Linked DNA regions of Homo sapiens. The protein of the gene in region 1 purifies or fractionates together with the protein of each later gene. This does not show direct contact. Each region holds a gene or a part of one and is shown in the gene's direction. Other genes may lie near its edges. The genes, in order: PTH1R, SIDT2, EVI5L, SOAT1, PIGO, DNAJC17 and SPPL2B.

The links.
Region 2: the proteins of PTH1R (region 1) and SIDT2 purify together in Homo sapiens (affinity purification with mass spectrometry; 2 studies listed by BioGRID and IntAct, with this or other methods). This does not show direct contact.
Region 3: the proteins of PTH1R (region 1) and EVI5L purify together in Homo sapiens (affinity purification with mass spectrometry; 2 studies listed by BioGRID and IntAct, with this or other methods). This does not show direct contact.
Region 4: the proteins of PTH1R (region 1) and SOAT1 purify together in Homo sapiens (affinity purification with mass spectrometry; 2 studies listed by BioGRID and IntAct, with this or other methods). This does not show direct contact.
Region 5: the proteins of PTH1R (region 1) and PIGO purify together in Homo sapiens (affinity purification with mass spectrometry; 2 studies listed by BioGRID and IntAct, with this or other methods). This does not show direct contact.
Region 6: the proteins of PTH1R (region 1) and DNAJC17 purify together in Homo sapiens (affinity purification with mass spectrometry; 2 studies listed by BioGRID and IntAct, with this or other methods). This does not show direct contact.
Region 7: the proteins of PTH1R (region 1) and SPPL2B purify together in Homo sapiens (affinity purification with mass spectrometry; 2 studies listed by BioGRID and IntAct, with this or other methods). This does not show direct contact.

Annotation. Positions count from the first base shown.
Region 1 is NC_000003.12:46,887,721-46,891,220, forward strand, and holds part of PTH1R (parathyroid hormone/parathyroid hormone-related peptide receptor precursor), read left to right. Parts: intron 1-3,500.
Region 2 is NC_000011.10:117,177,451-117,181,542, forward strand, and holds the start of SIDT2 (SID1 transmembrane family member 2 precursor), read left to right. Parts: upstream 1-1,292; 5' UTR 1,293-1,813; coding exon 1,814-1,996; intron 1,997-3,965; coding exon 3,966-4,087; intron 4,088-4,092.
Region 3 is NC_000019.10:7,861,218-7,865,476, forward strand, and holds the end of EVI5L (EVI5-like protein), read left to right. Parts: intron 1-660; coding exon 661-801; intron 802-904; coding exon 905-1,060; intron 1,061-1,170; coding exon 1,171-1,317; intron 1,318-1,754; coding exon 1,755-1,850; intron 1,851-1,967; coding exon 1,968-2,063; intron 2,064-2,206; coding exon 2,207-2,485; 3' UTR 2,486-3,759; downstream 3,760-4,259. UniProt on the Homo sapiens protein: Functions as a GTPase-activating protein (GAP) with a broad specificity.
Region 4 is NC_000001.11:179,300,297-179,303,796, forward strand, and holds part of SOAT1 (sterol O-acyltransferase 1), read left to right. Parts: intron 1-2,380; 5' UTR 2,381-2,388; coding exon 2,389-2,506; intron 2,507-3,500.
Region 5 is NC_000009.12:35,088,188-35,090,889, reverse strand, and holds the end of PIGO (GPI ethanolamine phosphate transferase 3, catalytic subunit), read left to right. Parts: intron 1-217; coding exon 218-424; intron 425-605; coding exon of another isoform or gene 606-609; coding exon 610-824; intron 825-1,439; coding exon 1,440-1,510; intron 1,511-1,668; coding exon 1,669-1,798; 3' UTR 1,799-2,202; downstream 2,203-2,702.
Region 6 is NC_000015.10:40,769,474-40,772,973, reverse strand, and holds part of DNAJC17 (dnaJ homolog subfamily C member 17), read left to right. Parts: intron 1-524; exon of another isoform or gene 525-1,950; coding exon of another isoform or gene 1,951-2,478; exon of another isoform or gene 2,479-2,994; intron 2,995-3,500. Other genes in the region: C15orf62 (uncharacterized protein C15orf62, mitochondrial precursor), read right to left, coding at 1,951-2,478. UniProt on the Homo sapiens protein: May negatively affect PAX8-induced thyroglobulin/TG transcription.
Region 7 is NC_000019.10:2,335,184-2,338,683, forward strand, and holds part of SPPL2B (signal peptide peptidase-like 2B isoform 2 precursor), read left to right. Parts: intron 1-2,259; coding exon 2,260-2,442; intron 2,443-2,448; exon of another isoform or gene 2,449-3,500. UniProt on the Homo sapiens protein: Intramembrane-cleaving aspartic protease (I-CLiP) that cleaves type II membrane signal peptides in the hydrophobic plane of the membrane. Functions in ITM2B and TNF processing.

The DNA of each region.
Region 1 (3,500 bases):
CATATTTTGACGTAAATGTGTGTCTTAGAGATCTTCATTTCAGTAAATATGAATCTATATTTTTAAATGCTGCATAGTATTCCAAAACCTGGGACTCATTAAGTAGTCCATAGGAATGTACATTTAGATCATTTCTGCATAATTTGTGTGTGTGTCTATATGTGCGTGATTCCAGATGGTGGCAGGGAAGCTCCTTGAAATGCCCTCTAGTGTCCCCATGTGACTATTTCCTAGTAGGATATTTCTAGATTTTGTCATTGCTGGGCCTGAGAATATACATATTTTTTATTTTAATAGCATGGCCAAATTGCCCTCTAAAAAGCTTGTGCTGCTTTGTACTTATACAACACCAAGACCAACCAGGAGGGCCTCTCTGCCCACACCCACTGTCTCATAGGATGTTAAGAGGATTCTTTGTGTTTCACCTTTGCTTGGATAGGTGAAAATGGTGTCTCTTGTCATTTTAATTTGCTGATTACCAGTGACTTCTGGGCTTTACAGTGAGAGCTTGCTCGGGGCCATTAACCATCATTCTATGGGTTATTTGTCTTTTTCGTATTGATTTGTTGAAGCTTTTTATATCACCTGCTCTTAAACACATTCACCTCAGCTCTTGAAACGGCTTATGGACAGAGCAGCAGGAGGGTGCCGAGCCCTCCGAGGAACTGGGGTTTTCTTCGGAATGTTTTAATGAGGCGTCAAGTAGCCTCCCTCAGATTCCTGTTGTGGGCCTTCTGGGGACACTCCCTGGTCCAGCCACCACATCAGGAAGGCAGCTATTTCAGAAGGAGAGTCCTCAGGAAAAAGAAAAGGTGGGGCGAGGGTTTTGCAGACCTCTGAAATTGTCTGCAAAATACGGTGTGATTGGGAGAAGGGCGCAAACTTTTGCTCAGGTTTGCAGAAACATCAGAGACCTTCAAACCCTTAAAAGCCCCAACTCTGGGGCCAGTCTTATGCCCGAGGTGAGACCTAGTGGGATCCCATTCTGCTGAGCAGGCGATGGCTTAGATTAGGCCATACTGTTCTTCTGGGCCTTGATTCCTCAACCCAAGTAGGGCCTGCTTATGAAGATCCACCAGGTCGTAGCAGCCAACTCCGCTATCCCAGGCTGCATCCCACTGCCTGCCCCGAAGGCGGCCACGCTGGCTGGCCAGGATGAGAGGCGTCACAGTGCCTCTTCCCCCCCAGCCCCTCCCAGCCCCAAACACAGGCAGCCTGTTCAGGAAAGCCTGGCGAAGGGGAGGAAAAGTCAGCACTTGTCAGCGGTGGCGGGGCAGGACGAGGAGCCTGCTCAGGCCAGCCGGACAGAGAGAGGGCAGCAGGGGTGGGGGAGCAGTCCCAGCCAGCTGGCACGGGAGACATCCAGGGGTGCCAGCATGGGTCCCAGTAGTAGAACCTGGAGGAGGGCTGTAGGAAGGCCAGGAGGTCATGAAGGGGTCTCCTGTTAGCCAGGGTTTTCTCCTTCTGGCTGTGCTGGAGGCATCAACGGCCTGGTTCCCAACACCAGAGCCCAACTGTCCTCTACCCAGTTACAGCTGGGGACAAGCCGCCATCACTGGCATCACCGGCACCTTTATGTCTACACACCTCTGCTCCTAAATCGGCTTCGGGGAGGCTGCCTTAGGGGATCTGCAAAGGGAGACTTGCTTAATGTAGCAGCTAAAATCCAGGATTATGGAAAGATGATACCGTGGCTGGTGCCAGGGTACCCGTGTGGCTGGGCACTTCCTCCTCTCTTTCCCTTCTTCCAAGGCTGCTGCTTCAGTGTCAAGCAGATCTTAGCTCCATCCCTGGCCCTCCTCTTTCTGTGACTCTTGGCCTCAGTGTCCCTGTCTGTAAAATGGGGATGTGGTAGAAGGTGCAGGAGGCATGGGTTTTAAAGCTCCTTGCTGACCATGGGGAGGATGTGCTACAGTGGAGGGTATTGAAGCCAAGCACCATGATGGCTGGGTTGGGGGAGTCAAGTCAGCCCTAATCAGGACCATAGGAGGAGTGTTGGGGGGATATGGGACAGCTGGTGCAGGGCTGGGTGGCCTGTAAGTGGTGGGTATGGACTAAGTGACCCCTGGCCACAGCCCAGCCCCAGTCCCTCAGTCCTCACCCCTGAGACCCAAGATCTGCAGATCCGCTGGATCTAAGGGGACGCAAGCCTGAGTCCTCTGCACCCTGGCGCTGAGCCAAGAAGACAGGAACTCCTCAAGGGAGAGAGGGTTGGAGGGGCGGGGAGAAGGGAGTAGCAGACAGGGGGCATGCCAGGCTGAGAAGAGATACAGCTGTCAGCATTTCCCCTTCATCCCCAGGAGATAAGGCCTCCTCAGTCAGGGCAGAGGCAGAGGAGGGGGTCCTTTTTCCTCCTAAGCTCAAGCTTGGGGCCTCTGGCAGTAACCTTGAATCCTAATGTAAGTCCAGAGTGGATCCAGAAATGCAAGGAGCCATTGGGATACTCTTCCATCCCAAAAGCTTGCCAGGAACACCTTATCTAGCAGGTCCTCCTGTAGTCCCTGCCCCCAGTCCACCCTGGGGCCCCATCTCCCATCTGCCCCTCACTGTCACCTGCTGGACTCAGCCATCTACCCAGATAATCTCCCCCAGCCACCTTGGGTCCCTGGCCTGGCTGGGAGCACCCATGTCACCAGGCAGCAGGGGTGCACATGGCGGGGATGTGACTTGCTGCTGCTGCTGCTGCTCACAGTATCAACAATAGCAACCAGCTTTTCCTGAGCTTCACCCCTGCACAGGCTTGTTGTGAAGTACTTCATTTAATCTTCACAGCAGCTTTTTTTTTTTTTTTTTTTTTTTTGAGATGGAGTTTCGCTCTTGTTGCCCAGGCTAGAGTGCAATGGCGCGATCTCGGCTCACTGGAACCTCCGCTCCCAGGTTTGAGCGATTCTGCTGCCTCGGCCTCCCGAGTAGCTGGGATTACAGGCGCACCACCACACCCAGCTAATTTTGTATTTTTCAGTAGAGACAAGGTTTCTCCATGTTGGTCAGGCTGGTCTCGAACTCCTGACCTCAGGTGATCCACCTGGTTTGGCCTCCCAAAGTGCTGGGATTACTGGTGTTAGCCACCGTGCCGGGCCAACAACAGCCCTATTATTACCCTGATTTTACAGGAAAACTGAGGCACACGGGTTAAGCAACTTTCTCAGACACGAAGCTAGTCAAGGGTGGAGGTGGGATTCACATTGTGGGGCTGGTGGCAGAATCTCCTTGAAGAGGAGGGCACAGCTGGAGGGAGGAGTGAACAGGAGTGGGGGCATTCCAGGCACGGAGCTGTGAGCTAACGTTTGGAGGGGTAGCGCACTTGGTGTGGGGTTGTCCTCCTCTTCTTGGGAAAGTGCTTCCTTAACTTTAACATGAGTTATTCTTGTTGCAATGGCTGTGCTAACAGATAAATAGGTCCTAAAGTTCAGGGAGGCCAGAGGTGGGGCCACCACCCCTATGGATGAATGAAGGAGTGTGGGAGTCATGCGTGCTGGAAGCACATATCTTTCCCTCTC
Region 2 (4,092 bases), on another chromosome or scaffold:
GGAGACATTGCTAAATGTTTAGTACAATTTTTTTCTATTTTTCTATGCATGTCTATATGCATTTGGAATATATACGGTTTTATTTACTTATTTATTTTTGAGACAGAGTCTTGCTCTGTTGCAGCCCAGGCTGGAGTGCAGGAGCATGATCTCAGCTCACTGCAACCTCCGCCTGGTAGAGTTAAGCGATTCTCCTGCTTCAGCCTCCCCAGTAGCTGGGATTACAGGCACGCGTCACCACGCCCCACTAATTTTGTATTTTTATAGTAGAGATGGGGTTCACCATGTTGGCCATGGCTGGTCTCGAACTCCTGACCTCAAGTGATCTACCTGTCTTGGCCTCCCAAAGTGTTGGGATTACACGTGTGAGCCACGGCACCTGGCTCTATATACTGTTTATTTAGTGTCATATCCTGAATTCTCTGCTTACGTGTCCTGTGAAGTCTTAAGCATCATTTTTGATGCCTTCATGATAGTGCATTTAACCAATCCCTCATTATGGATATCCAAGTCATTTCCTTTTTGCTTTATATTATAAATATCACAGTGATAAGCGTAGCTGCCCAGGTATTTTTATCTGTGCTTCCTATTTCCTTAGGATAGAGTCCAGAAGTGGAATTACTGGATCAAAGGGTATAAAGCTCTCTAAGTTTCTTGAAACAGTGCCAAAATATTTTGTAGAAAAGTTTTCACCAATTTACACTGAAGGTCAGTATCTTTCAATGAGTTTTGTAACTGTCTCTGAGAGAAGAGGGGAAACAGCCCGGCAAGCTTGGAAAGCTCGGAAGGCCGTCCCTGCAGTTGTGTGGCCCCTCTAGAGGGAGGTGGGAAAGGCATGGGGATTCCTCCTGCAGTGCTGCCTCCGTTTCCCCTCCGCCGGTAGGGCCACCGTCCTGTTTCCTAATCCTTCGAGTTTTTCATTTTTTAAGATCCCCGGAGAAAAAGTGGCCCAGGGTTGGACGATGTTAGTTGTAAAGGTGGTGGTGGGGGTGGGGGAATCCTTATGTTTGAGCAAATGTAAGAGTTGTTCAGCAAGAACCCAACACTTGGAGATTGTTAACAGAAACATCTGCCTATTCCAACGTGAGTTTCAGAGATGGTGAAAATCACGGGAGAGAGTTGGGTAGGAGTTGGAGAAGGCATTGCAAGCTTTCCCCTTCAGCTAGACAGCTGCAGCCCCTTTAAGGGCAAATGCGGGACCTGGTCCTTTAAATCTGTGTCAGTTTCCCCTGACGTCAGCGGGCGGGCCAGCAGCCCTGCTGTTTATCGCCCAGCGGCGCAGCTCACTTTTCAGTGTTCGTGCGTCGGGACGGCGCGTCCGCCCGCCCTTAAAGGGCCCGCACCTCGGAAAACTCGCAGCCCAGCACGGCGTCGGGTAGCTACCACCTATCACGCCCCTCACTCTGCGACTCGCCTTCCTCCGCGGCCAGCCCCCGCCGCCGGCTCTTCCTCCCTCCCCTTTCCCGGCGTCTCCAGGCTCCCGGCAACCAGCCGCCCTCCTTCTCACGGCCCTGGCCCGGGGCTCCAGGGTCTCAGGTCGTACTCAGCCCCTCGCGAGCTGGGACCCCTTCCCGTAGCCAGCATCCCCTCCCTCCCCGCCCCCTCCCGGCCGCCCCCTCCCCTGCGGGGACCCTGGGAGCCTCTTCGGGGCTCTTGGGAGGGGACATTTCCTAATCTCAGGCCGGGGTTAAAGTTCTGGTCCTGGTGAGATGCTGGAAGCTGCGGCCGCAGCCGCAACCCGTCCCGGAGGTGTCCTGTCTCCTGTCGCCGCCGCCGCCGCCACCACCGCTGCCACTGCCGCCCTGCCGGGGCCATGTTCGCTCTGGGCTTGCCCTTCTTGGTGCTCTTGGTGGCCTCGGTCGAGAGCCATCTGGGGGTTCTGGGGCCCAAGAACGTCTCGCAGAAAGACGCCGAGTTTGAGCGCACCTACGTGGACGAGGTCAACAGCGAGCTGGTCAACATCTACACCTTCAACCATACTGTGACCCGCAACAGGGTGAGGGCTGGGGGCTTAGGGGCCAGAGGCGAGTGGGGAAGCCGACGAGGGCTAGGCGATTCTGCCGCCCCGCTACCCTTTTGGGAGGCCCCAGGAACGAGCTGTCCTGCTAGGTTCCCAGTTCCCAGAACCACACTGGAGCCTCTTGACCAGTCCTCCTTCCTTTGCCACCAATGTTTCTCTGAAGCTCCAGCTGGGCAGTTTTTGAAGTTGGCTCATTCCCATCTTCTCTTCCGCCCCCATTCTTCCATCAGTTGTGGTCTGAGCACACATGGCTTGCTCTCTACCCTAAACCCCAGAATCTGACAGCTCTGTGGGGTCTCGGTGGGAGAGGAAACAGGCTTATTACTGGGCTTGCCCAGAAAACCTCAGGGGAATGAGACTGGCCCAGAACTGAAAAGCTCTGTGCAGGCAAGTTACATCTCAGACTCCCCAGGGAGATGAATGCAGGGCTTCCCAGCCCTCTTCCTGCCTGGGAGAGCCAGCTGGCCTTGTAAATTGAGGGTGACAGAGGTTTTATAAGGCCAACTGCAAGTTGGGTGGGAAGAGAAGGGGAATTTGTCCACTGTGAAAAATCCACTTCACCCTGACTTCTCTTTGGTTTCTTCACCAGCTGTGAGTCCCTGAGTTGAAATAGACACAGCTAGTGTGGGAAGTCTAGACCCCAGGCAGAGCTGAGATTGGGAGAATTCTTGCAACCTGGCTGTGTGGTCTCGTGCCCGGGTCTCTTGCTCTCTCTCCATGACTGCCGTTTACTGAGAAGCAATGGAGTTGAGAATGGGGAATCTGATTTTTTTTCAGAACGGGGAGTGGTTTGGTTTCTGTGGCAGGCCAGGATCTGCCCCCAGTGCCTGGTTCTCTGAAGTTTGATCTCTTTCTGCTTAGAGTCCTTTCTTCCTTTTTTCCCATATCTAAAGGCACTGGAGAGCTGTGGTTTTTACTCTTTTGGGAAATGCTGCCCTAGGGCTTGGGTTTCAGCAGCCCAATAACAAGCATTCCAAGATCGATTTGGTTTTATTTTTCCTTTAAGCTCCCATTGTTTATATATGTTCCTTCATAGCTCCAAGGGTGAAGATCACTTTATCTTTTTTTTTTTTTTTTTTTTTTTGAGACCAGTCTCACTCTGTTGCCCAGGCTGAAGTGCAGTTTTGTGATCTCAGCTCACTGCAACCTCCGCCTTCCCGGTTCAAGCGATTCTCCTGCCTCAGCCTCCCAAGTAGTTGAGATTACAGGCGCCTGCCACCATACCCAGCTAATTTTTGTATTTTTAGTAGAGATGGGGCTTCACCATGTTGGCCAGGCTGGTCTCAAACTCCTGACCTCAGATGATCCTCCTGCCTTGGCCTCCCAAAGTGCTACAAGCGTGAGTCACCGCACCCGGCTGTCATTTTATAGAGGGAGAAGTTGAGGCTTAGAGAAGTAAAGTGACTTCTCCACAGCCCTGTCCCTTGGTGGGAGCTAAGGATACAACATGGCCTTCAATACCTACCCCTCCTCAACTCCTCTGGGCTCTGGCCCCAGGTTAGCTGTTAACTAGAGCTTCCTGCTGGCTTCCTGGCTCACAGGAAGGTTGAGGAGCACTTCTTGTTCTCCTGTGTCTTCGTGTGTGGGGGCGTGTGTACACGTTTGTGTGTGCAGGCCTGTGCATCCTGTGCACATGGATAGGAATGGGGTATCCTGGAGACTCGCAAGGCCTCCACCGTGTTTCCTGGCAGAGGGTGAGACCCTGCGGTTGCTTGGGTCCTGCTGCCCTGCACATGTCTGCCGGCCAGGAGCTGCACTCAGCACAGGTCTTTCCTGGAGTCTGGGGGTTGTTCTGGCAGAAGAAGAGGCAGAGATGACTCCCTGGCCCGACCAAGATGGAGAAAGACCAAAGTAGCTGGCATGAAGGAGGGCAGGGCTCATAGTCTCTGGAGCCACGTGTCCCTGGTGGCAGAGGCTTGAGAGGCATTTCCATGTCGTTCTGCAGACAGAGGGCGTGCGTGTGTCTGTGAACGTCCTGAACAAGCAGAAGGGGGCGCCGTTGCTGTTTGTGGTCCGCCAGAAGGAGGCTGTGGTGTCCTTCCAGGTGCCCCTAATCCTGCGAGGGATGTGAG
Region 3 (4,259 bases), on another chromosome or scaffold:
CTCCCAAATGGAGGACTGAGAGGCCATCTGCTTCCAGGCCCTCATCACCAGCCAAGAGCTGGGCTCCGCTCCCGCCTCCCTCCACTTCATAGGGAAGTGTGCCTCCAGGACATGCTGCTAGATCTGTCCCAGCCCTAGACCCAAACACGGGTCAGTGCGGACCTCATCCAGAAAGCTGGATTTGGGTCCTGGAGCACAAATCCTCCATCAATGAGCCCTGGGACACCAGGACAGGGCCAAGGCTGGCACTCAGCCTGTTCCCAGGGAGAGGGACTGCCTGGCCTGGTGTGGCCTGGCCTGGGGGCCAGAGGGCAGACAGGGTGTTTCTGCTGGGGCAGGTCCTCCACCTGATCATGTCCCTGAGGGGATGGATCTCAGACCTCGGGGAGTCAGTGTGTGCAGCGCGGCGTTTATGGGGGTTGCCCTAGGACACCCTGTGAGAGTAGGTGCTGTTACTACACCCATTTTATAGCTGAGGAACTCCAACCGGGTTCCACAGGCGAGTCCGCTCCCCGTGGGCCTTGTCAAGGGGGTCGCCCTCCCCCATCTGAGCCGCCCAAGGCAGAGCTCAGGAGGAAACGTGGCTGGGGGCGTTTGTCCTGCAGGAAGGGCCATGCGGCTGCGCTGCTCCCCCAGGCCCTGACCCCACTCTTCCCGCAGAGGAACAGCTCGCTGCCCGACGAGAACAATGTGGCGCAGCTGCAGGAGGAGCTGAAGGCGCTCAAGGTGCGGGAAGGCCAGGCGGTGGCCTCGACGCGAGAGCTTAAACTGCAGCTGCAGGAGCTCTCGGACACCTGGCAGGTGAGGGCCGGGTGGGCGCCGGCGGGCAGAGCGCCCCCTAGGGCCATCCCCTCGGGGTTCTTGGGCGGAGGCTGACCGCCGGCTTCTCGGCTTCACCCCCCAGGCCCATCTGGCCCGCGGCGGCCGCTGGAAGGAGTCCCCACGGAAGCTGGTCGTGGGCGAGCTGCAGGACGAGCTGATGAGCGTGCGTCTGCGCGAGGCCCAGGCCCTGGCCGAGGGCCGCGAGCTGCGGCAGCGCGTGGTGGAACTTGAGACGCAGGTGGACTCGGGGGGCCTGCTCGTTGGGGAAGGGGCGTGGTGTCCGTGGCCAGCCCCTGAGTTAGGCCCTGACCGCCGCCGTCCTCCGTCCTCCCTTCCTCCCTATCCCAGGACCACATCCACCGCAACCTTCTGAACCGCGTGGAGGCGGAGCGCGCGGCGCTGCAGGAGAAGCTGCAGTACCTGGCTGCACAGAACAAGGGGCTGCAGACGCAGCTCAGCGAAAGCCGCCGCAAGCAGGCCGAGGCCGAGTGCAAGGTGCAGACCCCCGCGGCCCCGCCCTGCCCGTGGCACCGCCCCCGGACGCGCCCCTACATGAGGCCCCGCCCCCAATCCGCCTCTGCCGGCGTCCTGCCTCCCGATCTGCCCCTGCCCGCGGTCCTCCCGCCCCCGCCCGCGGCCCCGCCTCCTGACCTGCTCCTGCCCGCGACCCCGCCTCCTGATCCGGCCCCGCCTCCTGACCACCCCCCCCCGCGGTCCCGCCTCCTGATCCGCCCCCGCCCGCGGCCACGCCTCCTGACCCGCCCCCGCCCGCACCTCCCTTGCCCGCGGTCCCGCCCCTGCCCGCGGTCCTGCCTCCTGACCCGCCTCCGCCCGCGGCCCCGCCTCCTCATTCGCCCCTGCCCGCGGTCCCGCCCCCTGATGCGCCGCGCCCCCTGACCCGCCCTCCTTTCCCCCCAATCCCCCGACCCCAGAGCAAGGAGGAGGTGATGGCTGTGCGACTGCGGGAGGCGGACAGCATGGCTGCGGTGGCCGAGATGCGGCAGCGCATTGCCGAGCTGGAGATCCAGGTGATCGGCGGGGCCGGGGTCGGGGGGCGGGGGCGGGGGCAGGGCCCGGGGCAGGAGCGGGGCCGGACCCCAGGCCCAGCATGGCACTGGCCCCGCGTGACCTGGCGCACCCCGCAGAGGGAGGAAGGCCGCATCCAGGGCCAGCTGAACCACTCGGACTCATCGCAGTACATCCGCGAGCTCAAGGACCAGATCGAGGAGCTGAAGGCCGAGGTGAGCCGGCGCGGGGATGCCGGGGACAGGCCTGGGTGTCGTCGGCCTGGGACGAGCCGAGCGCAGGTGCCTTGCGGAGGATGCGGCTGGGAGGGCGGGGCAGAAGGCCGGTCCACGCCTGCAGCGCCGGTCCCCCGCCCCAGGTGCGGCTGCTGAAGGGCCCGCCGCCCTTCGAGGACCCGCTGGCTTTCGATGGGCTGAGCCTGGCGCGGCACTTGGACGAGGACTCGCTGCCGTCGTCGGACGAGGAGCTACTTGGCGTAGGCGTGGGCGCTGCCCTGCAGGACGCATTGTACCCTCTGTCCCCGCGCGATGCGCGCTTCTTCCGCCGTCTGGAGCGGCCGGCCAAGGACAGCGAGGGCAGCTCAGACAGCGACGCCGATGAGCTGGCCGCGCCCTACAGCCAGGGTCTGGACAACTGAGGCCATGCCCAGCGCGCCCGGAGTCAGGAGGCCGCAGCCGCGGGGGGCGCCCGGGCAGTCCGCGTTCTGCTCCCCACCTGCCGCACTTGACAAACTACGCGCCCTCTGTGGCTCGGCCACCCCTAAAGCGAGGCCCGGCGAGGCAGCGCAGAGGGTAGGGTCCGACCTGGGCTCCTCAGGGCCCCGGGGCAGGCTCTCTATCCCCAGCAGTGTTTACCCATCTTGGTCTGTACCCCTCCGGGCCCTCTGGCGTTCCAGGGGTGCCTGGAGGGGCTGACTGCTCTCTTAACAGGAGGGCAGAGGGCAGGGGACAGACGACCCAGAGGTCCCAGCACTGAATGAGCAGGCAGCTCCCACCTCCTGGCAGGCTTCCTTCTGGGACAGGGGCGACATTGCTGGGAAGTGCTCAGGAGGTAGCCGAGGCCTGAGGAAGGAGAGCGCCAGCTCTGGGCTGGACATCAGCACCCCACAACACTCCTCGGGATGAAGTGACCCTTGACTAGCCCCTGGCCATCTCTAGGGGAGTCAGGCCGCTGGGGACAGATGGCCAGGCCGGCCTCTCCTGCCTGGCGCAGGCACCGTGGCCCCTGCAGCGGAAACCAAAGTCCCCCTACTATGTGCGGGGCGCCTGGGGACTGAGTGGCTAACGGGAAGCCTCCCTGCTTCTCTGGGGCCAGAGCAGCTTCCAGGAAGTGAAGAGACCCCTCTCCCCAGTGCCCCACATCTTTCTCTGGGAGACACTCGCGCCCCCTATCCTGGCCAGTGATGGAGGGGTATCTCTACAGGGGTCCTCGGTCTCCATCTACTTCCCTTTCTTCATGTGTTTCCAGCCCCACCCTCAGCCAGAGCCAGGCCCCCAGGCAGGAGCTTCCCAGCGAGCGGCCTCCCCTCACTTCCTCCTGGTGGTCCCGTTGTCTCTGCTGAATCAGAGCTGAGAACGGTGCCAAAATCCAACGATGCCCCCCAGGCCCCTTCCTCCCTTCCCCCGGCCCCCCGGGCCTCATGACCCTGGGGGCTGCCCCCCTCGGTGCTCCCGGAGCCTCCAGTAGAGTAGCGTCACAAGCAATCTCCCTGGCGCTTCCTGGGTGGGGACCCCTGCTCCGTCCCCGCTTCCTAGCTGCCCACTTTTCAGTGTTACGAAGCCTGGGGACCGGGGCAGGCACCCACGGGGCTCTCCACACGCCCCCTACACTGCCCGCCACCATTTTGCACACTGCCTGTTCACATGTCGCCCAGGCGGGAAAAATGGAAAATAAAGTGTATTTACACAGTCACGGACTGGCCTGCGGGCTGGGAGGAGAATCACAAGCAGCGGTGGGTGCCCAGCCCAGGGACCAAAAACCGTGCTGAGGGAAGGTGGGGCTGTCCTTGCCCTTAGGAGCTCCCCACAGTCTCATAGAATGGGGGTGGGAGAGGATAGAAGGGCATTCAGTTTGGGGGCAGGGCATGATTTCCCACCTGGGTGAATCAACTTGGGCCTCCCCTGAAGGAGAGAGGCATGCCGAATCGCTGGGCTTCAGGAAGCACAGGACCCGGTTGCATTCATTCTGCTCACGCCTCCAGGGGTAATGTGGGGTACTCTGCCCTGTGCCTGGCTCTGAGGGGGTCTCCAGTGGAGCAGAGGAGACAGGCACTGGGCAGGGGGAAGCCTGCACTAATGTGGTAGGTGCTCAATAGACAAATGTGCAGGGAGATCAGGGAAGGCTTCCTGGGGGAGGTGGTGTCAGGGCCTCTTCGAGGGGTAAAAGCATAAAGATCAGACCAACAGGAGGCA
Region 4 (3,500 bases), on another chromosome or scaffold:
GTTTTCAGTTCTTACTTCTCTCATCATTTCTGATGAAGAGATAGATGCTCTTGTGGCTTCCTCTGTCACTTTTACACAGAATTGGACCATTGTAAGTTGGGCATCGTCTTGTGATTTATTAGCCCTGACTTTTCCCTTAAGTTCCTCTTAATTAGATCTTATGATATCATAACATTTCTACTTGATATATTCATCTGCTGTTCCACAATTGTTTCATTTGTTTGATTTCAGAAATAATTAGAAGAAAGCCGATCTAGATTTGTCAGATTTTTACTTTGCCAAGCTGTGATAGTTGAAAAACAACCAAACCCACCATGTACTATATTTCATCCTTTTATACAGAAAAGGATATTTTAGTACAAAAATTAAGAAAAACTGTAGTCTCAGAATTTAAATATATATAGCTTTAAAATAATGTAATGAGTATTTCACAGTTGTTTTCTTCTTGCTTTAGACTCTTGAAAACTTTATCACATAGTGAAACACTGCTTTACTTTTTATTTAAAATTGTTTTTTTGGCCGGGTGCGGTGGCTCATGCCTGTAATCCCAGCACTTTGGGAGGCTGAGGCGGGCGGATAACTTGAGGTCAGAAGTTCGAGACCAGCGTGACCAACATGGTGAAACCCTGTCTCTACTAAAATACAAAAATTAGCCACGTGTGGTGGCAGTCACCTGTAATCTCAGCCACTCGGGAGGCTGAGGCAGGAGAATTGCCTGAACCCAGGAGGCGGAGGTTGCAGTGAGCCGAGATTGCACCATTGCACTCCCACCTGGGCAAAGCGATACTCCTTCTCAATAAATAAATAAATAAATAATTTTGAGATGTGGTCTTGCTATGTTTCCCATGCCAGACTCAAACTCCTGGGTTCAAGTCATCCTCCCGCCTGAGCCTCCCAAGTAGCTGGGACTACAGCTGTGTGCCACCATGCCCAACTAGGGAAACACATGGCTTTAGAGTAAACCTTGTACTATCTTGATATTGATCTTTGATCATGTTTTTTAGTGCTTAAAGTGTCTCACCACTGCCTTCCTGAAAAACTTCTAATTTCTTAGGCCTTTATAGTTTGACTCCTGTCCTCCTTTCTAGTCTTTTCCCTCATCACATTTCTCCATTACCAACTATTTTCCCCCAGTAGTTAGTGGTCTTTGTAGTTTGGATCCAACTAATGCCAGTTCCAATCGGGCTCTGTCGTTAGCTGTGTGGTCTTGGGCAAGTTACTGTAATGAGAAGAAAAGCAGACTCTAGTACCTGGGGCTGTGGTGTGCATTCCTATAAATTCAGCTTGTTCAACTGCAGGTGTATTCCTGGTACATGGGTGGAGGACACTGATAGTAACTACTTTAAATCATTGTTTTCTCATGTGAAAACTGAGGGTAATTTTTTTCAGAATTGTTATGAAGATTAAATGAGAAAACTTAAAGCATCTGGCAGGGTCCTTGCACTTAGTAGATACTTAACAAAAACTTGTTTTTGTCGTAGTTCAATTCCTTCATGGTTCCCTGAACGGGGCTTATAAGGTCCTTGTTTTAATCCTTTCTTGCACATGGAATGCACAGTTCTCATCCTTCAAGACTGTGTCTAAAATACCTTCTTTTCTGTGAAACCTTTACATCTTCTGCTAATCTCTGCTGTCTCTGAACTTAAGGTATTGTTTTTACCATTGACTTTGTTATTAAATCATACTCCACCCTGTGGCATCTTTGTAGTTACCTGTTACTATTTAATCCTTTTTTTTTTTTTTTTACATACTTAATGCTTTGTTCAACTAAATTGTTCTTTAAGAGTGGGGTCTATGTTTAAAAAGGGGCTTCAAAACCATTCCAATTATTTTATAGGACCTGATTTCTTCAGATTTGTTATCTTGAGTATCTTGTACCCAGAAAATGCTTTGAAATGATTAATGCAAAAGGAAGAGAATGTATCATCACATTTCACCTCTCCTAAATATAGTGGTATTGTGAAATTCACGTAAGCCAGATGCTTAGTTCAAAGCTGATATATTGGTTTGCTTCTGTGTCCCCACACAAATCTCATCTCTAACTGTAATCACCACGTGTCTAGGGAGGGAACTGGTGGGAGGTGATTGGATCATGGGGGCAGTTTCCCCCATGCTGTTCTCGTGATAGTGAGGGAGTTCTCATGAGAGCTGATGGTTTTAAATGTGGCACTTCCTTGCTCTGTCTCTCCTGCCGCCACGTAAGACATGCCTTGCCTCCCCTTGGTCTTCTGCCATGATTGTAAGTTTCCTGAGGCCTTTCCAGCCATGCGGAACTGTGAGACAGTTAAACCTCTTTCCTTTATAAATTACCCAGTCTCAGGTAGTGTATAGCAGTGTGAAAACGGACTAATACGAAAGCTTTTTACACCTTCTTTCCTAGACAATACAATGGTGGGTGAAGAGAAGATGTCTCTAAGAAACCGGCTGTCAAAGTCCAGGGAAAATCCTGAGGAAGATGAAGACCAGAGAAACCCTGCAAAGGAGTCCCTAGAGACACCTAGTAATGGTGAGGCTTAATTTTTTTTTTTTAGGTGAATTAGTGAAATAGAGAACAAATACAGTGTTATAGAATAAGTATTGCCATCTCTTTAATTCTTTATTGTAAATGGGTATTGATAGAGTTTTATATGTCTAGTAACAAAGCAATTAGACAATAAGTCCTTTCTCGTTAATTAATTTGGTGGTCATCTATTGGTATCTGCTGTGTTTTAGAGACCATTCATTCAGTCACGTAACCTACCAATAATTGCTGAGGTCCCCCGCTGGATGCTGGGGCTATAGCAGTGATCAGTACGGATTTGTTTGCCATTATGGAGCTCCAAGTTAAGTGAATGACAAAACCTCCAAAATCATACACATAACTAGATTTATCACAGTGTAATATTCTTGTAATTAACTACTTTCATAATAGATGTAATGAGTAAAATGTGAGTAATTAGCAGGGTGCCTAACCCAGTTCAATACTGAGCTATAAATCTTGGGAGAGGAGTAGTTAGGGAGTTTTATTAGTTCTTGTATCCACGTTTGCTTAATGCCTGACTACAAAGAGGAATACGATAGTCCTTTGTTGTTAAGGTCAAGGTTTATGATTATGAATGATAGACTTGTAAACACAACTCTAATTGATGTCATCTATTGCATCAGGGTATTAATTTTTGCAGTGACATTTGTAAAGGTTTGATTTCAACAAGGATTTGAAAATTGAGGATTGTTTAGTTAACAAATAGGTGCGGAACCTTCTGAGACAGGTTGTCTTTGGCATTTCATCTCTTTTCATAAAGAAACAGTTTTGTTTTTCCTACCTAAATTTAATTAAACTTAAATATCAACAGCTGGATCCCACCAGGAATGTAAACATTGCTGCTTGAGTTGGCATAATGAGGTTTATTGATAGGCTCTTAGTTAGCTATATATGACATATTTATATGGCATATGGGCTAGTTTTAGTGTGATATAAAATGTGAAATTTATGCAAAGGAGGATGAGCCAATACTGGGGAG
Region 5 (2,702 bases), on another chromosome or scaffold:
GATTGGCCATAGCAGGATTCAGATAAGCCTGATGGCGCTTTTGTACCACAGAGAGAATTAGAATAACAGAATGTTGACTGTAAGGAGGTTGGGCTGATAGGCATTTGAGTGTGTATGAGAATTGATACTGAAGTAGTAGGAGTATATGATTGTGGAGCAGTAGCCTATGGATTAGGGAATAAGAAGTGACTGTAACGTGGCATATCTTTTCTTCCAGGTCCTTTTACTGTGCCATGGCAGGCAGTCTCGGCTTGGGCCCTCATGGCCACACAGACCTTCTACTCCACAGGCCACCAGCCTGTCTTTCCAGCCATCCATTGGCATGCAGCCTTCGTGGGATTCCCAGAGGGTCATGGCTCCTGTACTTGGCTGCCTGCTTTGCTAGTGGGAGCCAACACCTTTGCCTCCCACCTCCTCTTTGCAGGTACCCCCTCCTCCTTCACTTGCTTCCATTGTTTACTCTGGCTTTGTGGAAAGAAAGGAAACCCCTGGATTTGAATGGAGAGATATGGGTTTGTTGGATCTTTGGCACCCCTTGGCCTAGGCTAATTGGAACCTGAGCCAGCCAGGGTGGCCTGTTGATTCCAGCCATACCCTCTCTTGAGGCAGTAGGTTGCCCACTGCTCCTGCTCTGGCCTTTCCTGTGTGAGAGTCAAGGGCTGCGGAAGAGACAGCAGCCCCCAGGGAATGAAGCTGATGCCAGAGTCAGACCCGAGGAGGAAGAGGAGCCACTGATGGAGATGCGGCTCCGGGATGCGCCTCAGCACTTCTATGCAGCACTGCTGCAGCTGGGCCTCAAGTACCTCTTTATCCTTGGTATTCAGGTGGGTGTAGGAGAGAGATCAGGGAGTTGGTGTTTTTTCTCTGTGTGTGCATCACTTTCTTTCAGACCTTCAAAACCGTGGGAGAGAGCCTTGACTGAGTTTCACATAAGTGAAGTGGTTGCCCAAGCCCAGTGGCCTCAAATGGCAGTTCTGAGACTTGAACCTGGGTCTCCTTAATCCTAGTCCTGGATCATTTCCCCTCTACAACCTAGATCTGGACCCCGCTAGTTGCATTTGAGGATTACTCTATCAGTGGACAGACTGGAAAAACTGAGGTGATAGCCAGGATTTTCTTCCCAAACTGTGGTCATGGATCCTCTTCCTTTCCTCCAGAGGCAGATGTGGCACTGATATCTTCCTCCATCCTGGGGGCACAGCCTGAGTGTTAGCATTGCAGATGGATACTGACTTGCCCAAAGTCACATAGTGAGTCAGTGCTTGGGGCAGGGCAGGAAGTAGGTCTCCTAACTCCTAGCCCAGGACATGCAATATTTTTTCCACTGACATGCACTATTCTCCTGCTTCCATTTTTTACAGGGGCCTATAGAAACTCTCCTTTTGCTCCGCTTCCTCCTCTCCTTCACAAGTAACGTGGCCCCTCCTCTCCTCCTCTAGATTCTGGCCTGTGCCTTGGCAGCCTCCATCCTTCGCAGGCATCTCATGGTCTGGAAAGTGTTTGCCCCTAAGTGAGTAGATTTGCTTGAGAAGTAGAGGTGGTGGGGAGGGAGAAACTTGGAACAAAGTATGAAGATCCTAAACATCCAGGATGGCCAAGGTTTTGCCTCTACAGGGAAAAGGCAGTAGACCTACTCTGTTGCCTGAGATTCTCCGCCTTTCTTTGCAGGTTCATATTTGAGGCTGTGGGCTTCATTGTGAGCAGCGTGGGACTTCTCCTGGGCATAGCTTTGGTGATGAGAGTGGATGGTGCTGTGAGCTCCTGGTTCAGGCAGCTATTTCTGGCCCAGCAGAGGTAGCCTAGTCTGTGATTACTGGCACTTGGCTACAGAGAGTGCTTGAGAACAGTGTAGCCTGGCCTGTACAGGTACTGGATGATCTGCAAGACAGGCTCAGCCATACTCTTACTATCATGCAGCCAGGGGCCGCTGACATCTAGGACTTCATTATTCTATAATTCAGGACCACAGTGGAGTATGATCCCTAACTCCTGATTTGGATGCATCTGAGGGACAAGGGGGGCGGTCTCCGAAGTGGAATAAAATAGGCCGGGCGTGGTGACTTGCACCTATAATCCCAGCACTTTGGGAGGCAGAGGTGGGAGGATTGCTTGGTCCCAGGAGTTCAAGACCAGCCTGTGGAACATAACAAGACCCCGTCTCTACTATTTAAAAAAAAGTGTAATAAAATGATAATATAATTATGTGTGTCTGAGATGTGGGGGAGCCCCACTGTTCTATAGGGGTTGTGAGGAGGATCAGTCTCTCCTGCCACCAGGCACAGATGAGATCAGTCATCTTAGGAAAGCCTGGCTGCACCTGAGAACCTTTATGAAGTGGTTGGAGTTGTCTGAATTCACTGCCTCCACCTCTTCCCAAATCAATCCTATTATCCCACCGCTATTTTCCTTTGCCATGCAACACATTTTGTTAAGTTCCTGTTCTTTGTCTGATAAAGAGAGAAGACTGAGAAGACAAGCCCAGGCATCATGCAGCACCGACTTTAACTGTCTGAAGCCCCAAATAGTGCTATGCCCCCGCTCCACTGGGCCTTTTCACTATAGAACACCCTTTGCCCTTCCCTTCTGTGGAAGCCTCCCTTGTTTCCCAACCTGTGCCACTCTTTATCAGATCTACATGCCCATCTTATGTAGCATTCCACCTTGTCCCATTCATTATTCCTGACTTGAAGCCAAAATTGTGT
Region 6 (3,500 bases), on another chromosome or scaffold:
AAAAAAAAAAAAAAGAAGGAACTCTGGCTACCCTGCTGACACGGGGTGGTGCCTGCCCAGAGTCTGGGTGCCCTGCCTGGGTGAAGCGTAGACCTTCCAGCTTGTGTGTAACCCCCAACCTGCAACCATGGCCCTGGTGTCTTTTGGCCTGGATACAAAGGCTAGGGCTGTGGGGCTCCTGGCCACACCTGTCCCCACCTTGGTGGAACAGATTGCTTTGGGGGCAAGATCTAGCAACCTGGTTCTTCCCTTCTCTGCAGTGGCCCAGGGCCTGTCTGGTGTGTCCACAGCCCCTCAGCAGGCTGGCAGGAGGCTGCTCTCATTACTTTACCCACGCCAGCCTGCTCCGTTGCCTGCCCCTCCACTTGACTGGGGTGACTGGAAAGCAGCTTTCTGCAAGTGTGTCCCAGATCCTGGATGGAGGGAAACAAACTGGCCTGGGCCTGACTCAGGGCCCTGCTTTAGAGACCTCATTCCCACCTTCAAGTCCCAGCATTTCACAGCCCCAGATAACACTCCATAGATTGTGTTAGAATTTTATTCATTCTCTCCTGTATCCACAGCTCGGTACCTATACACAAGAGGAGGAAAGAGGGAGGCCACTGATTTAGGTCGTAGAAATGGTGTGTGTCAGAGCTTCCCTCTCCCCTTTGCTACTCTTAGCGAGTCCCGGGGGGCCACCAACACATGGCCCAGCCAGTGCTGCTGGGCTCTGGTTTCTGTGTTCTGGTGAGGCCATGGGGTGGGGCCGTAGCACAGCCTGTGGCTTTGACCCAGTGGGCTTGGCCTGGTTGGCAGGCCCATCGTCGGAGGGTTCAGGCGGCAGAACTGTCTAATCCCGGGAGACGGTTCTGGAAACCAGCTGTGCCGCTTCGCTGTTGAATGCCCATCCCTGGATCCAGTTCTCCTCTCTTCGAGGAAGGAAACCTGCCAGGGCTCCCATCACTAGTAATTCTGGGAATTCCCCAAAGTACCCCTTTGCAAGCCGTGCGCGTGCCTGTGGCTGGCATTCTCTAGAGCTGCCTTCCTTCACCAGGGATTGCTCCGGGTAGCTGTGTTGGCAGACTGAGCCACGTCCTCATTTCTGCTAAGGATTTGCCTGGTCTTTTTCCTGAGTTATACTCTATCTCTACCTATCTCTTCCTATGTGGCCAGCCCCTGTATGCGCCTCCCCTTTGCTGGTGGCTCCAGGCCATGGTCTAGACAGCGCTGTCCATTAGAACTTTGTGCAGCGATGTTTACGTCCATTCTGCACTGACCAGTGTGGTAGCCATTAATCATGTGTGGCCACCGGGCATTTGGAATGTGGAATCTGGAATAACGGTGCAGCTGAGGAACTGAACTGTTAATTTTATTTATTTCAATTCAGTGTCATGCAGTGAGTGGCCACCAGATTAGACAGGGTCAGGCCTTCTCCCCTTTCTTCCTGGGCCTTCCCACTTTCCTCTTCTGCCTGGGTTGGACTGCCTTTACCCAAGCTTGTCCTGTGACCTCTCTCTGTTGACAGTGGCTTCCAAAGAGGCTGGCATGGGGCACTCATCTCTTCTGCTCAGTCTGTGTCCTCCCACTCCCTGATCTGACCCCGTGCCACCTTCTGGCTCTGCCAGCCTCTACCTGGTTCCTGTAGTGCCGCACAGAGCCTCCCTTTCCCGGCACAGCCTCCCTTTCCCGGCATAGCCAGCTTTCTTCAGGGTCCTGCCAGGAAGGGCCGCCCCCCCAACATTTCCAGATTGCCTCTGTCCCTCCACTCTGGGGTGCCTGGAAGGACTGTCCAGGACCCAGAGAGCAGGCAGAGCCCTGGATTCCTATCCTGGAATCCTCCCCCAGGATGAAGAAGCTCTGCCTGCCTGAACCCTCCAGCGATGGGCCTGGAGTCCTGTCCCTGTCCTTTCCTTAATCCCCAGCCTCTGGATCTTCCAGTCACCCCGGCTTTGCCCACCCTCACCCCATTTAGAAGCTGGGCTCGCTAGGAAACTGCTCCCTTAGCATCTGCAGAACTTCCTCAAGAAGTGAAATCCCCAGGTCCACTTTGAAGGAGAGGAAGGGATCACTGAGGTCTGGGGTAGGTGTCCTCTGGAAGCAGGGAGTGTCCACAAGGCCCTTCTCTGAGTGCTGGTGGAGGGCACTCGACAGAGAGAGCGCCGATGGCAGGGTGGCAGAGTAGGCTGCTGTGTAGGCAGGTGGGGGCTCCAGGATGTTGGGGCAGCTTGAGCTCTCTCGGTAGAGGCGTGGGGGCTTGGGTGGGGCCAGCAGGGTGGCCCGGGGCTGCTCGTCCCCCCACAGTGGCAGGCGCCGGCCATCTGGCCTCCCTTGTAGCTCCCGGATGACTTCTCGGTTGCTGTACTCCTCGTGGTCCCCACCTGCTGTGCTGGCCTGGCTAAGCACACTACTCTGTCGCCGGAGCCGCCGTGGCCGCCCCAGGCTCAGCTGCTTGAAGAAGGAGGCGTTGCGGAAGGAGCCTTTCCGCCAGGTCTCCATGGGGCCCAGGGGAGCCAGCAGACAGGTGTTCAGGAGCAGCCAGGGTGCATGTGGTCCCTGCTGGGGCAGTGAGTGCCAGCAGCTGGGGAGGCTCCCCTAGGAGCAGAGGCCTCAGGGTTTCCACTCAGCACAGACCTTTGACCACATCTTGGATGGTGAGAGGAGGGCTCAGGAAGAAGGAACTTTTTTGCCCAGGAGAGCAGACAGCTGGGAGTTCCTGGCAGCAAGAGTTTCCCACAGGGACAGGAGTGGCCTGGTTACTGAATAGGGTAGTGGAAAAAAACCCAGGAGGAAGAAGCAGCACTTACTGGAGCCAGAATGAGGGCAGCTCCGGCGGAGGCAGAGGTGGACCTTCTCGGGCTGGGTGAGGCTGGCGAGCGCTCCTTCCACAGGCAGGCAGCAGATGGCCCGAGCTCACTCGCCCTGGTGTTTGCCTGGCTCCTATATGTCTCTGGGGCAGTGTGGGGCCGTGCCCTCTCTGCCAGTGGCTCCCGGACTCTGATGAGTGGCCTGGCTGTTTGTGGCGGTGGAGATGTGTTTTTGTTCTCAGCTGACTCAGTCAGGTGGGAAGCCAGGTTTCGTGCTCTTGGGTAATTGCAGCATCCGCGTGCAGGGATGGGGCAGCTGGGACCAACACCCCAGGGCAATGGGGAGCTTAAGATTCCTCTGGGGACTCGTGTGGGGGCAGCCCTGCTTTATGTGTCACCACGCGGCTTCCTTTCTGATCACAGCCCCACCACCCTGGGCCCCCAGCAGGTGCGCCTGGCTCCCTGCCCACAGTGTCTGGGTAGGAAGAGTTCGGGGCGGGTGGGAGTTAATTGAAAGGCAGGCGTGTGGAACGATTGTTGGGGAAGGAAGAGACCTGTAGCTGGTATGGGTGACTCAGCCCCGCTGTCAGGCCCTCACGAGCAGGAACAGGAAGGGGGGCAGAGGGTGTGTTAATGGGGAGCAGCGCCATGCCTGTGATGGGCGGGCTCTGCTGCCCAGGGTTGGGCTGGGGGCCCGCCAAGGGTGGCTCCAAG
Region 7 (3,500 bases), on another chromosome or scaffold:
TCCCACCGCATCCCTCAGGCCCCGCCTCCTTTCCACTGCATCCTTCAGGCCCCGCCTCCTTTCCCACTGCATCCTTCAGGCCCCGCCTCCTTTCCCACTGCATCCTTCAGGCCCCGCCTCCTTTCCCACTGCATCCTTCAGGCCCCGCCTCATTTCCCACTGCATCCTTCAGGCCCCGCCTCCTTTCTCACTGCATCCTTCAGGCCCCGCCTTCTTTCCCACTGCATGCTTCAGGCCCCGCCTCCTTTCCCACTGCATGCTTCAGGCCCCGCCTCCTTTCTCATTGCATCCTTCAGGCCCCGCCTCCTTTCCCACTGCATCCCTCAGGCCCCGCCTCCTTTCTCACTTCATCCCTCAGGCCCTGCCTCCTTTTCCACTGCATCCCTCTGGCCCCGCCTCCTTTCCCACCACACCCCTCTGTCCCTGCCTCCTTTCCCACTGCATCCTTCAGGCCCCGCCTCCTTTCCCACCCCATCCCTCAGGCCCTGCCTCCTTTCCCACCGTATCCCTCAGGCCCTCTCTCCTTTCCCACCGCATCCCTCAGGCCCCGCCTCCTTTCCCACTGAGTCCCTCAGGCCCCGCCTCCTTTCCCACTGTGTCCCGCCCCCTCCTGGAGCCCTCGAGGTGTGCCGGCGAAGAGGCACTAGCATCTTCCTGTCAGCTTTATGCATAGTGTGTGCGTGTGAGCACGTGTGTAATCAGTATGTGCCTGGACATGCTCATGTGTCTGCATGTTTATGTGAGTTTGCATCAGTGTATGTGTGCATGTGCCTGAGTGTTTTTTTGTGTGTGAACACATAGGTGTGTGTCAACACATGTAATAGGTATGTGAACACATGTAATAGGTATGTGTGAAGACATGTGCCTGAGTGCATATTTCTGAGTTTGTGTGTGTGAGCACATGTGTACTAGATATGTGCATGGACATGTGTGCCTTAGTGCGTGTTTGTGTGTCAGCACACCTGTGTGTGTGAGCATGTGTGTAATAGGTGTGTGGGGGCATGTGCATGGGTCTGAATGTGTATGTCTGTTTTTATGTGCACATGTGCCTGTGAGTGTGCATGCAATAGTTTTGTGTATGGATGTGTGAGTGCATGTGTGTCTGTATGTGTGCAGGTGTGTGTAAGCATGTAGCTACATAATAGTTATGTTTGTGGATGTGTGCATGTGTCTGCACATGTGTGCGTGTGTACATGTGTAATAGGTCTGTGTGTATGTGTGTGTACATGTGGATAATAGGTTTGTGTGTGGATGTGTATGTGCCTGTGTGTTTGGGTTCGTGTGTGTGCATGAGTGTGTGTGAGTGCATGTGTAATAGGTATGTGCGTGTGAGTGTGTGAGTTCATGTGGCGTGTGTGTATGCATGTGTGTGTAATAGGTGTGTGTGCGTGAGCTTGAGTGCACAGGTATGTGCTTGTATATGCACACGTGTGCTGTGTGCTCTGGCCTGGCTGTGTGTGCGTGTGTGTGTGCATGTGTGTAATAGGCATGTGTCTGCTTGAGTGTGAGTGTGCATGTGTGTGCTTGCGTGTGCATATGTGTGCCATGTGGTCCGGCCTGGCTGTGTATGTGTGCACGTGTGTGTGCATGCACTCCAGCCTGGCTGTGGGTGTGTGTGTGTGTGCGCGCTGGCCTGGCTGCGGCTATGTGCGTGTGTGTGTGTGTGCACTCCAGCCTGGCTGTGGGTGTGTGCGTGTGCACTGGTCTGGCTGTGGGTGTGTGTGTGTGTGTGCATGTATGCATGTGTGTGCCGTGTGCTCCAGCCTGGCTGTGGACGTGTGCTTGTGTGTGCGCGTGTTCCGGCCTGGCTGTGGGTGTGTGTGTGCGTGTGCGTGTGTGTGTGCGTGTGTGTCTTGGCTTCAGGGGCTGTGAGGCCCCTGAGAGTTGGGGCTTTGTTCTCTGCACACTGGAAACCCTCCCCCTTCTCACAGATGCCTGGCCGTGGTGGGGCTGCGGTGGGGACCCACTTGGTCTTGCTGAGTGATCTGTGACGGCTCGCGGGGTGGCTCAGGTATCAGGGGACAGCCATGTCTGTGAGGACTCCGGCCCCGCTCAGATGAGGCAGCCCAGCCCGTCGCCCAGGGTCCGGCTGTGGGAGCTGCAGTAGGGATGGCTCTGCCTAGGTGGGCCGAGGCCGTGCGGGGCTTTAGGTGAGGGCTGGGATCTAACTCAGCGCAGGCTTCAGGTGGGAGAACGGGCAGCTGGGCCCTCCTGGTGACTCACATCACGTGAGACAACACTGTGCCCTGGCCTTTCCAGTCTTTCCTGCAGCTGCGCAACTGGACGGCCTCCCTGCTCTGCTCCGCAGCCGACCTCCCCGCCCGTGGCTTCAGCAACCAGATCCCGCTGGTGGCGCGGGGGAACTGCACCTTCTATGAGAAAGTGAGGCTGGCCCAGGGCAGCGGAGCACGCGGGCTGCTCATCGTCAGCAGGGAGAGGCTGGTACGGCCCTGTGCGTCCCCCGCTGGGCCAGCTCTCAGGGGCAGGAGGGGGGTGCAGGAGGCAGAGATGGCAGCAGCTGGGGCTGGTCTTCCGACTTCTCGCTAAAGGCAGATCCATCTGTGGGGAGGATCTGGGCCGAGTGTGAACATGGGGAGGATCCGGGCCGAGTGTGGCCGTGGGGAGGGCGGAGATGAGTCTGTTCTTCCTGAGCTGCTGGCTGGGGCTGTGGAACTTTGGCCGTGGTCTTGTTGGGTGCCTGTCCTAGAGCAGCCCCCAGGGGTGACGGAGACCACACTCTCTGTGGGGATGGGATTGGGGTGGCTTCTGAGGAGCAGGTGGCCTGGCCCTGAGCTGGTCCTTTCTGGGTACCCTGGTGCCCTTGCCCTCTAGCCGGTGGGGCCGTGCTCGCCTGTGGTCCTAGCCAGGTGGCCTGAAGCCTGGCCCCTTTTCCATCTTCTGTGAAATGGGGCTGTGGTTGAGAGCTGGGGGCCTGGCAGGGCTGGTCACAGCACAGGGACATGCCGACTGCTGGGCTGGGCAGGGTGCGTGGCCGCCCCTGAAGTGTAGTTTTGGAGTAAGAAGGAATGGAGTTCAGGAATTCCCTCACAGCTCTGCCTGTGGCTCTGGGCTGCCCCCGCCAGTGTTGCACCCTGAGCCTGGCAATCCACGGAGGCCTGGTGCAGGGGCTCAGGGCCGAGGGCAGAGCAGGCCGGGCAGAGCCGAGAGTGCCATCCCTGTCCGCACACGCTGCCGTCGTAGTTGAGAGAGGCCCTCAGTGGGTGCGGGGCTCAAGGCGGCTTAGTGGGCAGGCATGGGCTGTGACAAGTATCACTCAGGACTTGTATGTGCGGTTCGGGAGTCCCACGGCCGAGGGAGGGATTAGTGGCGCTTTTAGGCCTGGGGCCCTGTTGTCAGGTGAAGAAGGCTTGATGCCCTTCGGCCTCCCTGTTCTTGGGTCCTCCTGGGGGGCCGGAGGCTGTCAGCTGCAGAGGGGGAGCCAGCAGGCGCCCCCAGCCTGACCCGAGCCTCGAGTGAGGGTCCCAGGAGAGGAGGCGAAT